Homo sapiens: one gene and its partners. The protein of the gene in region 1 interacts with the protein of each later gene in a pairwise test. Each region holds a gene or a part of one and is shown in the gene's direction. Other genes may lie near its edges.

What was found.
Region 2: the proteins of CTTNBP2NL (region 1) and MOB4 interact in binary tests that used the Homo sapiens proteins (3 or more experiments, as listed by UniProt).
Region 3: the proteins of CTTNBP2NL (region 1) and STRIP1 interact in binary tests that used the Homo sapiens proteins (3 or more experiments, as listed by UniProt).
Region 4: the proteins of CTTNBP2NL (region 1) and STRN3 interact in binary tests that used the Homo sapiens proteins (3 or more experiments, as listed by UniProt).

What each region holds. Positions count from the first base shown.
Region 1 is NC_000001.11:112,399,214-112,402,933, forward strand, and holds part of CTTNBP2NL (CTTNBP2 N-terminal-like protein), read left to right. Parts: intron 1-3,720. UniProt on the Homo sapiens protein: Regulates lamellipodial actin dynamics in a CTTN-dependent manner. Associates with core striatin-interacting phosphatase and kinase (STRIPAK) complex to form CTTNBP2NL-STRIPAK complexes.
Region 2 is NC_000002.12:197,550,566-197,554,285, forward strand, and holds the end of MOB4 (MOB-like protein phocein), read left to right. Parts: coding exon 1-81; 3' UTR 82-3,134; downstream 3,135-3,720. Other genes in the region: HSPE1-MOB4 protein, read left to right, coding at 1-81.
Region 3 is NC_000001.11:110,037,405-110,041,124, forward strand, and holds part of STRIP1 (striatin-interacting protein 1), read left to right. Parts: intron 1-486; coding exon 487-556; intron 557-1,278; coding exon 1,279-1,353; intron 1,354-1,767; coding exon 1,768-1,902; intron 1,903-1,990; coding exon 1,991-2,111; intron 2,112-2,419; exon of another isoform or gene 2,420-2,533; intron 2,534-3,230; coding exon 3,231-3,299; intron 3,300-3,720. UniProt on the Homo sapiens protein: Plays a role in the regulation of cell morphology and cytoskeletal organization. Required in the cortical actin filament dynamics and cell shape. Part of the striatin-interacting phosphatase and kinase (STRIPAK) complexes.
Region 4 is NC_000014.9:30,907,865-30,911,584, reverse strand, and holds part of STRN3 (striatin-3), read left to right. Parts: intron 1-422; coding exon 423-544; intron 545-3,720. UniProt on the Homo sapiens protein: Calmodulin-binding scaffolding protein which is the center of the striatin-interacting phosphatase and kinase (STRIPAK) complexes.

The sequences.
Region 1 (3,720 bases):
GAGGCTGAGGCAGCAGAATTGCTTGAACCCAGGAGGCAGAGTTTGCAGTGAGCTGAGATTGCACCACTGCGCCCCGGCCTGGGAAACAAAGCGAGACTCTGTCTCAAAAAAAAAAAAAAAAAAAAAGAATAGTTTCTGAGTGTTTGGTTTTGACAAGTTATTGATCTACTTTGGGACTTTTAAAATGGATTTTTAGTTGATTTTGTGTTTTTAAAGTAACACTAAAAATAGGAACGGAGCACAGAACAGCCTTGGGTCCCTAAGTGTAATTATACAGGCTGATTATTGATTGTGGTGGGCATAATACAATCAGTCTTCTCTGGATTTGTATCTTGGCAGAATCACATTTGCAGTGCTACCAGTTGATTTGCAGCGTAGGATTTGAATTCTTGGTTTTTCTGAGTGGAGCAGAATGGTGTTTCTTGGGGGTTTCCATCTAACTGGTGTTTGACGTCATGAAGCAGGAAGCAGAGATATGCTTCTAGAGGAAATTTGTTCAGTCTATGCTGGTTGGCCCCAGGAGTGGCTTATTAGCATGTTTTCTAAAGGCCATTTTAAAATTTCTGAATATTTGGCCGAGCATGGTGGCTCACACCTGTAATCCCAGCACGTTGGGACATTGAGGCAGGCAGATCACCTGAGATCAGGAGTTTGAGACCAGCCTGGCCAACATGGTGAAACCCCTTCTCTACTAAAAATACAAAAACTAGCCAGGCATGGTGATGGTCACCTGTAATCCCAGCTACTCGGGAGCCTGAGGCAGGAGAATGGCTTAAACCCAGGAGGCGGAGGTTGCAGTGAGCCGAGATCACGCCATTGCACTCCAGCCTGGGCAAGAAGAGAGAAACTTCATCTCAAAAAATAAAAAATTAACAAAATTAAAGTTTCTGAATATTTGCTGCTAATAACTAAAATTTAAATCTTCCAAAGTTCAATTTAAAGCCTTTTAGTGAGAAAATGGCTTACTTATCATGAGCCTGGAGAATGTAATTATTTACAACACAGACTTTAAAGGCAAACCTAGGTTCAAATCCCAACTGTGCTACTGTTCACTGTGTGATCCAGGGCAAGAGAAAAATTTTCTGTCTTCACCGTAGCTCAGTCTGTTTCCTCAGCTGTGAGATAGAAATAACTTGGAGAGGTTTCTTTAAGGATTACACGAATAGGCCAGGTGCGGAGGCTCACACCTGTAATCACAGCACTTTTGGAGGCCGAAGCGGGTGGATCGCTTGAGGCCAGGAGCTCGAGACCAGCCTGGCCAACATGGCAAAACTCTGTCTCTACTAAAAATACAAAAATTGCCAGGTGCAGTGGCTCACCTGTAATCCCAGCACTTTGGGAGGCCAAGGCAGGCGGATCACCTAAGGTCAGGAGTTTGAGACCAGCCTGACCAACATGGAGAAACCCCATCTCTACTAAAAATACAAAATTAACAGGGTGTGGTGGCACATGCCTGTAATCCCAGCTACTCCGGAGGCTGAGGCAGGAGAATGGCTTTAACCCGGGAGACGGAGGTTGCAGTGAGCCAAGATCGTGCCATTGCACTCCAGCCTGGGCAACAAGAGCGAAACTCTGTCTCAAAGAAAAAAAAAAATACAAAAATTAACCAGGCATGGTGGCACGTGCCTGTAGTCCCAGCTACTCAGGAAGCTGAGGCATGAGAATTTGCTTGAACCCAGGAGGTGGAGGTTGTAGTGAGCTAAGATTGTGTCACTGCACTCCAGCCTGGGTGACACAGCAAGACTCTGTCACCAAAAAAAAAAAAAAAAAAAAAAAAGGATTACATGAATATACACACATACACGTGCACATATCACAAAGCAAGGTACCCAGGATATAAGAAGCACTTAGTAATTGACAGGTATTATTATTAGCACTTGGCATGTGAGTTAAAGAATTTAATATTCAACATTATTTTACCCCTTCAGCATTTTAGCAAAGGTGAAGACTTAGTGTTGGATTTTAGTTATTGATTGGTTTTGTTTTAAATTTTTCAACATATGACTAAGTCCTGAATAGAGGGAAACAAAGCTTGTTTGCATATGTCATGATCTCAAGCATCTGAGCCAAAGATTTTTAGGAGAGTGTGTATCTGTCTTGGAGTGTGTGTATTTAATAATTTTGTCATGCAGATTATCTTTCTTGAGTTTTTTGGTCCAAGGAAAAAAGAAAGGCAAGGGATTCAGCTAGCCGATGTCTTCTTTCTGAATTGTCAGTTGCTCCACTCTAAGCTCTACTATCTTTAAGTAGCATCATCCTGAATGTCATATAAATGGTTTTGTAGATACTGTGATTACCGTGCAGAGTTATACCTTCTGTGAAATTTAAGGGACTTTTAATGGTAATTTTGATTAAAAGTGGTTTTTACCTTACTTTTGAAGACAGCCTCCCCCACTGTCCTCAAAGTAAGGAGCGATGATAGGAACAACCAAAACTGGAGTGAGAAGAAAACATGGATAGGGGAGTTGAGTAGAGGTGGGGGAACATGAAAGGCGGGAGTTTGTGGGTTGAAGAAAACAAGACTACAAAGAGGCATTGAACTAGATAATGCAATGCGCTGTAATATGGCTCATCTTTGCCAGTTATTTCCAAACTCTGCATTTCAGGTACAGAGCCAGAACTTCCAATCTAAATGTGTCATTTGCTGTTTAATGAATCCTTTCTGACTTCTGGAGCCACAAAGAATATAGTTCTCAATTGTTACTGAATTTAAAGAATGCAACCCTTAATTGTTACTGAGTTTAATAGAAACAAGAAAGGAAAATAGGAAAGCACAGGATGATGGGGTGGGTCTACAGACAAAGACTCCTGACCGTGAGCTTCGGGAGCATCTGCGTAGATTCTTTGTGCAAAACTGCTGGGAAAGGCTAGGCTGAAGCTGAAGTGTGCTCTGGGTCTACTCACCATAGAAAGGTGAGAGCCAGGCCAGGCATGGTGACTCACGCCTGTAATCCCAGCACTTTGGGAGGCTGAGGCAGGTGGATCACCTGAGGCTGGGAGTTCAAGACCAGCCTGACCAACATGGAGAAACCCCGTCTCTACTAAAAATACAAAATTAGCCAGGCATGTTAGCACATGCCTGTAATCCCAGCTACTCGGGAGGCCAAGACAGGAGAATCGTTTGAACCCAGAAGGCGGAGATTGTGGTGAGCCAAGATCGCGCCATTGCACTCCAGGCTGGGCAACAACAGTGAAACTCCATCTCAAAAAAAAGAAAAGTGAGAGCCAGGGAAGGAGAACAGAAAGTAGAAGCAGGGATAAATTGTTTTAACACGAGATAAGAATTGTAAGTTATAATGGAGAGAAGGATGAAAGATAACTGACAGGTAAGTTATAGGAAAAAGAAAGAAGCACAAACTGGGTTTTTTGTTGGAGAATGGGGGCTCCAGGGAGGCCCTCATTACTTGGTTTCTGCTAAATAGTCCTTTCTGTTACAGCAGGTGCTACAGAAGTAACAACAGAACCAATCTAGTTCTTAACTGACTTAATGTTTGAGGGTATAACAATGATCTGGTCTAGCCCTATATATCAGTTTCATCTTGTTGCCTCTTGTCCTTAAATTGAGGGCACAGAATAAATTTCCTTAAAAGGCTCTATCCCCAAAGACTTCTTCACTTCTAAACCCTTAGCCATCACCACACTAACAGACTCTTAACACGTTCCTCTTGGGGGTCAAATAACTTCTCATTCAGCCTGTCTCGTATCACAGTCATCATTTCC
Region 2 (3,720 bases), on another chromosome or scaffold:
TTGATGTCCAAGGATAACCTGATTGTACCAATTTTAGAAGAGGAAGTACAGAATTCAGTTTCTGGGGAAAGTGAAGCATGAAGGGAATCATAGGAAAAATGTACTGATCATATAATTAACATTATGTACTGTATATATCATTTTAGACACATCAATCATGTATCCATATTATAGCTTCTTTGTTTAGTATAGGTTTTTGTATGCTGGGTTTGCCTTTTAAAATGGGAAATACTTTTTAAGTTATTCATAAGCTGTATATTCACCAGTGTGGCACTCATGGTTTTTAAATAAGATTAGTATTATCTGTTTATAATGCCTGTTAATAAAAGAATTTACAGTTTGGTAAAATTGCTGCTAAACAATCATTGGATCACAATCCTCATCAGACAAACCCATCTGTAAAAAAAATGAGGGAGAGCTTGAGGTTTCACACAAGCCATTTACTAAAGAGGTAGAAATGTTTTCTATTGGTTTTACCTTGAGTTTAGATATCCTAAAAAATTCTGTAGTACGTAGTTTTGTCTTACCTGTTAACTTTCCCCAATTGAGATAAAAGTGTTTTAAAATTCTGTTTATAGTTTTTGATATGCATATATAATTATGTGTATATCTAAATACAAATGCAAATGAAGCATTAGTAATACTTAAATAATTTTACTGTGCTACATAAAGTATAACATACTTGGAAAGGATTTACCGTTCTGCAACAACGGACTGGTACATACAGGATGATCACAATGGTAAGGCACATAAATTATTTTCCCACTGGAAACCTGCCCTGTCCACCCCTTCTCATTTCCCTTAACCTTATCTTCAAACTACTTTAGCTGAGAAGCTTTTCACCAGACTGAGTTAGTGGTGGCTTATACCTATTTATATTTGTATTAATTGCTTACAGATTATACCTCATATTAGCAATTACATTACACTACAAGAAAATGTATTTGCATAGGCTCTTGCTTATCTTTGTTTTGCAAAATTGTTCTACTTAGAAAACAGTCCTTAAAATAGTTTGACTCTTCCTGTTAGTAATATATTAATCTTTCATTTAACCAGCTAGGCAGCATTAAATAGAATTGAAGAAATACCATAGTATTTATTTTACACCCCCTCTCCCACGAAGTTTATGTTTGGATTACATGCACGTGTGAGATTATTTGCAATAATTCATAGGTTCCAAGGGTGTTGATGAATAGTCATACATTTTTTTGGACTTTGTTATAATTCATTGTGGTAAGAATGATTGAAATGCAGATTTAACAATCTTATAATCTATTGAATGCCATTTTTGATAAAGCACTGGAGGTCTTATTGCCAAACTGATTGTAATGAGGCAGTAAGGGTGAAAACATTGTACATGTTGTGAAGAAAGTATTTAAATCCAACTTTTGAACAGATTTAACAAACATGAGGAACTTTTTTATTTAGAAGGATAATTTTGAAGATGAAAATGTATTCATCTTAATTGTTTTTTCAAATTTAAGGGAATAATTTATACCATCTTTTCAGACAAGAATGTACAGCAAAAATAAGGGGAACAGTAGTATACTGAGAGTGTGTGTATGTATAGTGTATGCCTTTCCAAGCTTGCCAGTCTTTTTGGCTTTGAACACTGCCCATCAGCTACAGTCATTACTGTTCCCCAACCCACAACTATCTTTTAAGAAGTCTTAGTTCACAGTGAAAGGAATGATGACTTTGAAATTATGGATTTATATTAATGGCACTATAAACCAATGGTAATGGTAATTTTTAAACTTGCTAAATATTGAGAAACTAAACTACTAAGTTAATAAATTATATATAGCAGTGTAGCTGTTCTCTCTAGATGGTGTCTCACAATGGATTTCTGTTGCTTGACTATTTTCTTAGTGAATATTTATACTAAGGTAGTGACTGAGATTTGGTGATCTGGCTGAGTATTTTGAAACACATTTTGAATAATATGGCTTAGTGTTAACGGGGACTTAAATATGATTTTTTTTTCTTACTCATTTCACCTTCCCTGTACTGTATGTTTGGAATTGATCATAAAACATCTCCAAAAGAAAATAATCAGTTTGTAGTCTTGCTTTTGTATTCATGTTGATAATCTTACTAATTGTGAAGTTGATTCACTACTATACTAGGTAAGACCTAAGTGAAACAGTTCCTGTTTTTCCTTAATACTGTTTTCAGAATTTTGAAAATGTACTTATATATACATAAATACTACTAAAAAATTAATGAGCCTGGCAAACCATTGATTTATAAAAGTAAGTGTTCTAAGAGGGGAACAAGACAGTTCTGTGTGATAAGGAAGTTAGGCTCCACTTTTTGTTTGAATTACCCTATGTATATCCGAAGGTAAACTTAGGCTTTTCTTTCCAAAAGATCGTATAGTCAATTCATTCTTTTTCTCCTATCACATCTGGGAAAGTAGCTAACTTTTAACTATTTATGTTCCCATAAGTAACCCTTCTTTTGTGTGTATACATTTCCTTTTCTCTGACTTGAGATGTCAAATTTGGATTTCTAGAACAGTTTCTCAGTTAAATTCTTGATGACTTAACAACTTTTACTATCAGAATACAATTAGAAATCCTTGGTCAGGCACAGGGGCTCACGCCTGTAATCCCAGCACTTTGGGAAGCCAAGGCAGACAGATCACCTGAGGTCAGGAGTTCGAGACCAGCCTGACCAACATGGAGAAACCCTGTCTCTACTAAAAATACAAAAATTAGCCGGGCGTGGTGCTACTCGTGAGGCTGAGGCAGGAGAATCGCTTGAACCCGGGAGGTGGAGGTTGCGGTGAGCTGAGATCGTGCCATTGCACTCCAGCCTGGGTAACGAGCAAAACTCCGTCTCAAAAACTCCGTCTCAAAAAAAAAAAATCCTTGATTACATTGTTAGTAAGGACTGTGTTACGATTATAAACACATTTATTGGTTGATGTCAAATTCACTGTAATAGTAGAACTAAGTTTTTTATGTGAGTACTTTGCCCTACTGTCTATATGATGACATCTTTTTTGAGCAGCTAAATTTTAAATTGTATATACTTTATTTTGTGAATCCTTGTTGAATGTGCTAAAGGTTTCTTTGTGTAGTTCTTCCATGCTATGCGAATATTTTAGTAAAAGTAGTTGATTTTTATTTCTTCAAGCATCTCATTGTTAACAGACAATACATATGGACCAGATGTAGTGGCTCACGTCTGTAATCCCAGCCCTTTGGAGGCCAAGGTGGGCAGATCATTTGAGGCCAGGAGTTCAAGACCAGCCTGGCCAACATGGTGAAACCCCATCTCTACTAAAAAAATACAAAAATTAGCCAGGTGTGGTGATGCATGCCTGTAATCCCATCTACATGGGAGGCTGAGGCAGAAGAATAGCTTGAACCTGGGAGGTGGAGGTTGCAGTGAGCCGAGATTGCACCACTGCACTCCAGCCTGGGCGACAGAGTAAGACTCCGTCTCAAAAAAAAAAAAAAACGTATTTGTGCAATATGCTTAGCAGTTTATTTGAGATGATAAGAACATTCAAATCTGTTTTCCTGAAAAAATATGCATTATTAGTATAGAGTACACTATGAAACCGGAAAGCTACCAAGTGAATCCTCTAGAGGGTTAGATTACCTATCTAATAATAGGTTCATTGTGGAGCCTTACTCTTCATTTGTATGACTTTTCTGCTACTTTTTTTTTTTTAGGCGGAGTCTTGTTCTGTCACTCAGGCTGGAG
Region 3 (3,720 bases), 2.4 Mb from region 1:
GAGGGTTTCAATACTCATTTTTGTCCTGAGCTGTTGACAGTCCACTAGCCAGAAAGAAGTTAAGACTTCTGGAATCATAGCATCATATGGAATGGTCATTTACTGCACAAAATACATAGAAACCTTGTATTTATTCATTTAACAAATATGTGTGTATAGACCATTCATTCATTCACTTATTCATGCCAGGTACCATGCTGGACCTTGTGAAATCATTGGTAAGTTAAATGGATGATGTTCTTGTTCTCAGGGAACTTACAGTCTTGTGGAAAGGCAGACAGTAAACACATCCTATAATGATAAGTTATGATAAATGCTCTGAAGGAAAAGTATAGGATACTCTGAGAGGTTTTAGGAAACAAAATGTGAAAAAACATAAAAAAGTGGAGGCAGTGGTGTCCTGTAACACAACAGCATCTCGAAGCATGAGTTTCTTTGATAAATAGAATGATCCTTTTTCCTAAAGCTCTCTCCTCTTGTCAGCAGGGCTATTCGGAGTCACCAGACCTGGAGTTTGAGTATGCTGACACAGACAAGTGGGCTGCAGAGCTCTCGGGTAACGCACAGACCTTTGTGTTATTTGGGGGTGGTTTTTTCCTTATTGGTCTTTAATAAAATTAATAATGAATATCATTTAGGGCTTCATTGCTTTCCCTAGTTCTATCAAATATATATATATATATATATATATATATATATATATATATATGTATAAAACATGTTATTTGATTCAAGCCTTGTGTATCTTATAACTTTGTGTTGTCCTTTACTTTTATGAAGCTGGCTAGAGCCCAGTCCCATTGTGAGACAGTGATGTTCCTTGGCTATCCACTGTGACCCTGACAGTGGTCTCTCCTCCAGCAATGGGTCATGAGGGATGCCTGCATCTGTGCCCATCTGCTGCTGCCACTGCCACTCTCATGTAATGCGAGGTCGGTGTGAGCTGCTTCTCCAGCCTCTACAATACACATCCTGCTCAAGAGGTAGCAGCCATTTGAGAGATGCATCCCAGGTGGCCGTCAGCCCTGGCATGGCATGGTGGGATGGATGCACATCGGACTGGAAGTGTCCAGATGGCATTCTGGCACTCTGGTTGTCTCTATTGTGCACATCAGAGCACTAAGATCCCCTTCATAATTAGAGAGCTTATTCCAGGAGTCACTATGACTCAGGGGCAGAGTTGAGAGTGGAAGCAAATGCCTTGCCTTCTCTGCACTTGTGAGACCTGGTGTGCAATGCAGACATGGAACCAATGGTGACGAGACTTTGTTCTGACAGAGCTTTACAGCTACACGGAAGGGCCAGAATTCCTGATGAATCGAAAATGCTTTGAGGAGGACTTCCGGATCCATGGTGAGATGATTTCCCACACTTCTTGCTTCCTTTGCCCTGCATAACGAGAGCTGCAGGTTTCTTTTAGGCATCTGAATGACCTGAGTCATCCTGGAACAGCCTGAGAAGCCTGCTGAACCCTGATGGTTCAAAGCCAGATACATGTAGAGTGGGCTTGTGGCACATCGGTGGGGGCTTTTCAGAATGTGCATATTAGGGGAGAAAAAAAAATCATGTGATTAAAATTGCACCCAAAATACCAGCGTTTCAGTTTGGAATCAAATTCATAGAGCAGCAGTATGATCTTACCACTTACATAGGGTGTAACTTATCTTTCTGGTCCTATGGCAGTCCTGAATTTGGTGAGTTAACATGGGTCCATGCCATTGTGAGGATTTTTCTAGGCTCAGGTGTAACTGGTTTCTTGCCCTGCAGTGACAGACAAGAAGTGGACTGAGCTGGATACCAACCAGCACCGGACCCATGCCATGAGGCTCCTGGATGGCTTGGAAGTCACTGCCAGGGAGAAGAGACTCAAGGTGGCTCGAGCAATTCTCTATGTTGCTCAAGGTATTGAGTGGACCTCCCCAGGGTTCCCTGGCACCTCTGCCCACTCAGATGCAGGGAGGGGCTCAGTGAGTTGAACCCTGCATTGCAGGCACGTTTGGGGAGTGCAGCTCGGAGGCAGAGGTGCAGTCCTGGATGCGCTACAACATCTTTCTCCTCCTGGAGGTGGGCACGTTCAATGCTTTGGTGGAGCTTCTGAACATGGAAATAGAGTGAGCATTTTTGAGAGGCTGAGTAGGGAAGGGGAGGCTGGGATGGGAAGGGGGACAGAGCTTGCAGAACTAACTGGCTTTGAGAGGGTTAAATGGGGCAGAAGTTCTGGTCCCAGGCTGTGTTCTGACCACCTGGGTTGAATAACGGAGTTGGTCACTTACACCTTGAAGATTAATGGAGACTAATGACAGGTCCCTGCAGCTCCCTGATGCCAGAGTTTTTACACCAGACAGTGCAGGCCCTGCCCAGGCCTGGGGTGCTCCTCAGAAGGAGACTCTTCACTTTGAGCTCTCTTTTGAACCTGCAGACACTGCTGTGTTCGCCCTGCAGTTTCCGCCTTGGCAGGAGGCCAGGCACAAGACTGACATATGGGCTCAACCAGTGCCTGGCCTTGCCTGTGTCACCTTTGTCCAGTGGACAGGTCAGCTGCTGCTCATCTAAGGATAACACCATCAATGATAAAGCTAAGACAGCTCATTGAGTGCCTGTGTGTCCCGGGCATTGTTCTCAGAATATTACATGTGCTAATTCATGTTAAGGATATAGGTACTACTGTCATCCCCATTTTACAGATGAGGAAACTAAGGCGCAGTTAGAGCCAGGATTCAAACCGTGGCAGTCCAGTGCATGGCTGGGTTTTTTGTTTTTGTTTTTGTGTTTTTTTTGTTTTTGTTTTTGTTTTTGAGAGAGAGTCTTGTTCTGTTGCCCAGGCTGGAGTGATATGGCGTGAACTTGGCTCATTGCAACCTCCACCTCCCGGCTTCAAGCTATTCTCCTGCCTCAGCCTTCTGAGTAGCTGGGTTTACAGGTGCCTGCCACCACACCCAGCTAATTTTTGTATTTTTAGTAGAGATGGGGTTTCGCCATGTTGGCCAGGCTGGTCTCAAACTCTTGACCTCAGGTGATCCACCCGCCTCGGCCTCCCGAAGTACTGGGATTACAGGCATGAGCCACCATGCCCAGCCATGGTCTGGTTTCTTAACCACCGTGTCCTGTGGCCTCTTGTGCAGTCCAAGCACGTATCACAGCATTTTGTTTCCCCATTGGTCAGTACTTGTCAGGGACATCACTTATCTTCCTTCTTGGAGGAAGATGCTGACTCTCAAAATCTCCTGCAGCAACAGTGCCGCCTGCAGCAGTGCTGTGAGGAAGCCTGCCATCTCCCTGGCTGACAGCACAGACCTCAGGTGAGGCGAGCAGCAAGCCTGGGCTCCTGAGCGTTAGTCAGAGATGAGATCAGAGCAGGGTGTGGGAGGCTGTCTGTGGGTGTCATTGCTGTGTGTGCTTCTGTACACATCATCTGCATGTGTGATGGGCTCAGTGTGAATGATTAGTAGGAACTGCTGAGGGCTCGTCCTAGGTGGGACTCTGGGTTGAGACTCCCAAAGGCAATCCAGGGTCAAGTGACTTACTAGAGCCACAGCTAAGTGTGGCCTCCTACTCACACTGTTACTCAGGACCTGGTCGTGGGGTATTTTGTATTTGGATGAAACACTTGATGGTGTTCCCTGGACTCCCACCTTCTTGTGTACACAGCTTGATGCTCATCTTCATTGGGTTAGACCTGACAGCTTCCTAATGTTTCATGGCTGCCCAGGAGCTCACAGC
Region 4 (3,720 bases), on another chromosome or scaffold:
ATGCCTGTAATCTGAGGATTTTCGGAGGCTGAGGCGGGCAGATCACTTGAGGTCAGGAGTTCGAGACCAGCCTGGCCAACATGGTGAAACTCCGTCTCTACCACAAAATACAAAAATTAGCTGGGCATGTTGGCGTGCGCTTGTAGTCTCAGCAACTCAGTAGGCTGAGGCAGGAGAATCGCTCGAACCTGGGAGGTGGAGGTTTTACTGAGCAGAGATCACCACTGCATTCCAGTCTGGGCTGGTGACAGAGTGAGACCCTGTCTCCAAAAAAAAAAAAAAAAAAAAAGTACCAGTCAGGTGTACATGTTCTCTTAAAACAGTTTTTAGATATTACATAAATTCAGAGGTTGGGGGAATGGAGATTTGAGTTTCTTCTTAGAATTTATCAGTAATTTGTTTTTCCTCTCTTCCTACAATAGCGGCCCTGTTCTGTCATTAGCTATTAGTTCTAATGGAGAACAGTGTTTTAGTGGTGGTATTGATGCAACCATCCAGTGGTGGAATATGCCGAGTCCCAGTGTAGATCCATATGATACATATGGTAAGTAAAATGATCAAAATGTATTTTTTTTAAGTGAATGGAGCTGACAAAAGTAAATACCTCAAATATGATTACAAGGTTATTTAAACCTATATTAGTCACCTCATTTAGTTCTTCCATTTGCTAATAAATTGCTTTATTAAAGAGAAAAATTAGGAAATGTCATGCCATGGGTATTTAAGCCTATGAATTGATACTTTCTCTGTTGTTTAAAAAACTATATTAATTAAAATGTTAATTTAGGTAGTAGTTACAAAAAGAAGGAGGAAACAAAATGTAATCTAAGTAACAAAATTTTGAACTTAAGAAATAGTTTATATATTTTAAAAATATTAAGCAAAAGACAATGGAACCAACATCAGGGGTATAAATCATTAAAACTTTTTGGAGCCAAAAATTTTTTTTGTTATTCTTAGCTCATATCTACAAAAACATTCTTAATTTCAAAATGGAAGAAAAAAAAAAAGAAAGGAAACCTCCTTTGACTTGCAAATGTAGCTTTTAGAAATCTGTTCTACAGAAACACCTACCTGTACCTGTGTTCAAATATATTTGTAAGGGCACTGTTAATAATTATAAAACGTTAAAACAAAATGTTTATGAACTCTTTGTTCTTTTTATTTAACACACACATTGTGCCTACATTAGCTAGGCATTGTGGTAAGCACTATGTCAAGAAATAAGATTTAGACTAATGGAAAGTAGAGACATAAAACAGATAAGCGAAGGGATGGGATCTATGGTTACAAATTGTGATAAATGATAAGAAGATAGAGTACTGTTGAGAGGGCGTAACAGGCAGAACCTTCTCTAGAAGAGTTAGTCAAGAAAGGTCTTTCTAAAATAGTGACATTCAAGCCAAAATCTGAAGGATAAGAGGAAACTTTCAGTAAAGAGTTTTAAGCCAGAAAGTTATCTGATAAATGTAAGGTTTTAAAAAGGTGACTGTGTCTGTTGTGAGAAGAATAAATTGGGGGCGAGAAGAGTGGAAAGAGAAATACCAGTTAGGAGGCTGCTGTCATAAAGTAGTCCAGTAAACTAGGTGACAAACGACATTGCCAAGATTAGAGTGGTGGTAGCACAGCATTTAGAAGTGGTTTTAAGATACGCTGAGGGAGTGTGGTAGAATAGACAGGATTTATTGATAAATTATGTTGAGTAGATAAAGTGATGGGTGAGTGACTCTTAATTTGTATGTGTTTAACTGCTTTACTGAGATAATTTACATATCACAAAATTCACCCTTTTAAAGTATACAGTTCAGGCTGGACACAATGGTCCATGCCTGTAATCCCACCACTTTGGGAGGCCGAAGTGGGTGGATCACTTGAGGCCAGGAGTTCAAGACCAGCCTGGGCAACACAGTGAGACCTCATGTCTGCCAAAAATTTAAAGATTTGCCAGATGGGGTGTCACATGCCTATAGTCCCAGACACTCGGGAGGCTGAGCTGGGAGGATCACTTGAGTGTGAGAAGTAAAGGCTGTAGTGAGCTATGATGGTGCCAGTGTACTCCAGCCTGGGAAGAGAGTGAGACCCAATCTCTCTCTCTCTCTCTCTTTCTTTTTTGGAAACAGTCTTGCTCTGTCTCCTAGGCTGGAGGGCAGTGGCGTGATCTTGGCTTACTGCAACCTCCGCCTCCCAGGCTGAGGAGCTGGGACCACAGGTGTGAGCCACCACACCGCACTAATTTTTGTATTTTTTGTAGAAATGGTGGCCATGTTGCCCGGGGTGGTCTTAAACTCCTGGGCTCAAGTGATCTGCCTGCCTCAGCCTCCCAAAGTATTGGGATCACAGGCATGAGCCACTATGTGCAGCCACAAGACCCCATCTCTAAAAAAAAATTAAAGTCTACAGTTCAGTAGTTTTTACTATGTTCACAAAGTTGTACAGCCATCATCACTAATTTCAGAACATTCACAAAGTTTTACAGCCATCATCACTAATTTCAGAACATTTCAAACATTCAGAACATTCAGTCCTGTTTGATGTGAGTAACTGAGCATGTGATGGGAGCATTTATTGAAACGAGGACAGAACAGGTGTGAGGAGATTTAAGATGGTGAGTTCAGATTTTAGGCATGTTAAAGGATGACAAATATCAAGTAGGTAATATACAAATAAGGAGCCCAAAGAGATCTCGATTGAAGTTAAAAACATGGACAGTCTTCTCTATACAAATAATACATTAAACTATAAGAATGGGCAATACTGGGGGAGTGTATTGTTTGGTGTAAGAAGAGAAGACAACCTGGGACTAAAGTCCTCAGTAACTCTGACACTGGAAGAGTGGCTAGAGCAAGAGAGCCAAGAAAGGAAACTGAGGAGGTGTGACCCAAGAGACAGAAGGAAGTGCAGGAGAGGGTGCGAAATCATGGAAGCGCACACTAAAGAAGAAACAATTTTGAGAAGAAAGAAGCAGTCTGCACTTTCGAATGTTGCTGAGAGGTCCAATAATATGATATAAAGTTTCCTTTTTATAAGTGACTAGCAGGTCACCCAGGTCTTGGCCAGACAGAGTTTGGACGCTGCAGCTAAGACTGAAGAATGAAGGGACCTCTGGATAATCTTTCATGTCAGACTATATGGATGAAAAGCAATATAATGGGAACAACAACAAAATGTTTTGTATCATCAAAGAAAAGTATTAAATTTGATAGTGTAGGGATCATCATTAGCAAGGATTGTTTTGGTGTGGTAGTGGTATCAGAAACCAAATTGGAGTGATTTGAAGAGTAAACAGGAAGTGAAAAGCATATTTCTATTGCTGGGTGGAAGGGGTGGTAGGATAGGATTAATGAAGATTTTTTGTTGAAGAGATTCTGGAACAAGTTTTTTTTCACTATGGTAATGATTCCAAGGAGGAGAATTTGTGTAGTAGAGAAGCAGTAAACATTACAGCAAGTTAGTGACATCTGGTATTAGCCTTTGATAGGATGGAGGACAGATTCCTTGCTTGTATCTGGAAGCTAGGAGAAGATACCTTTAGACACTAATCATTTATATATTACGCAGCAAGAAGATGGGGGATAAGAAACATGCAGCATTATTTGAATGCTATATTTTCTCAGTGAAATATGAGGCATAGTCATTCATGAGGAAGAGAGGTTGGGAGCTGTGAGAATTGTGGAGATGATAAGAACCATTCATGGAAAGTGGGAGGAGTTTACTAGAAAA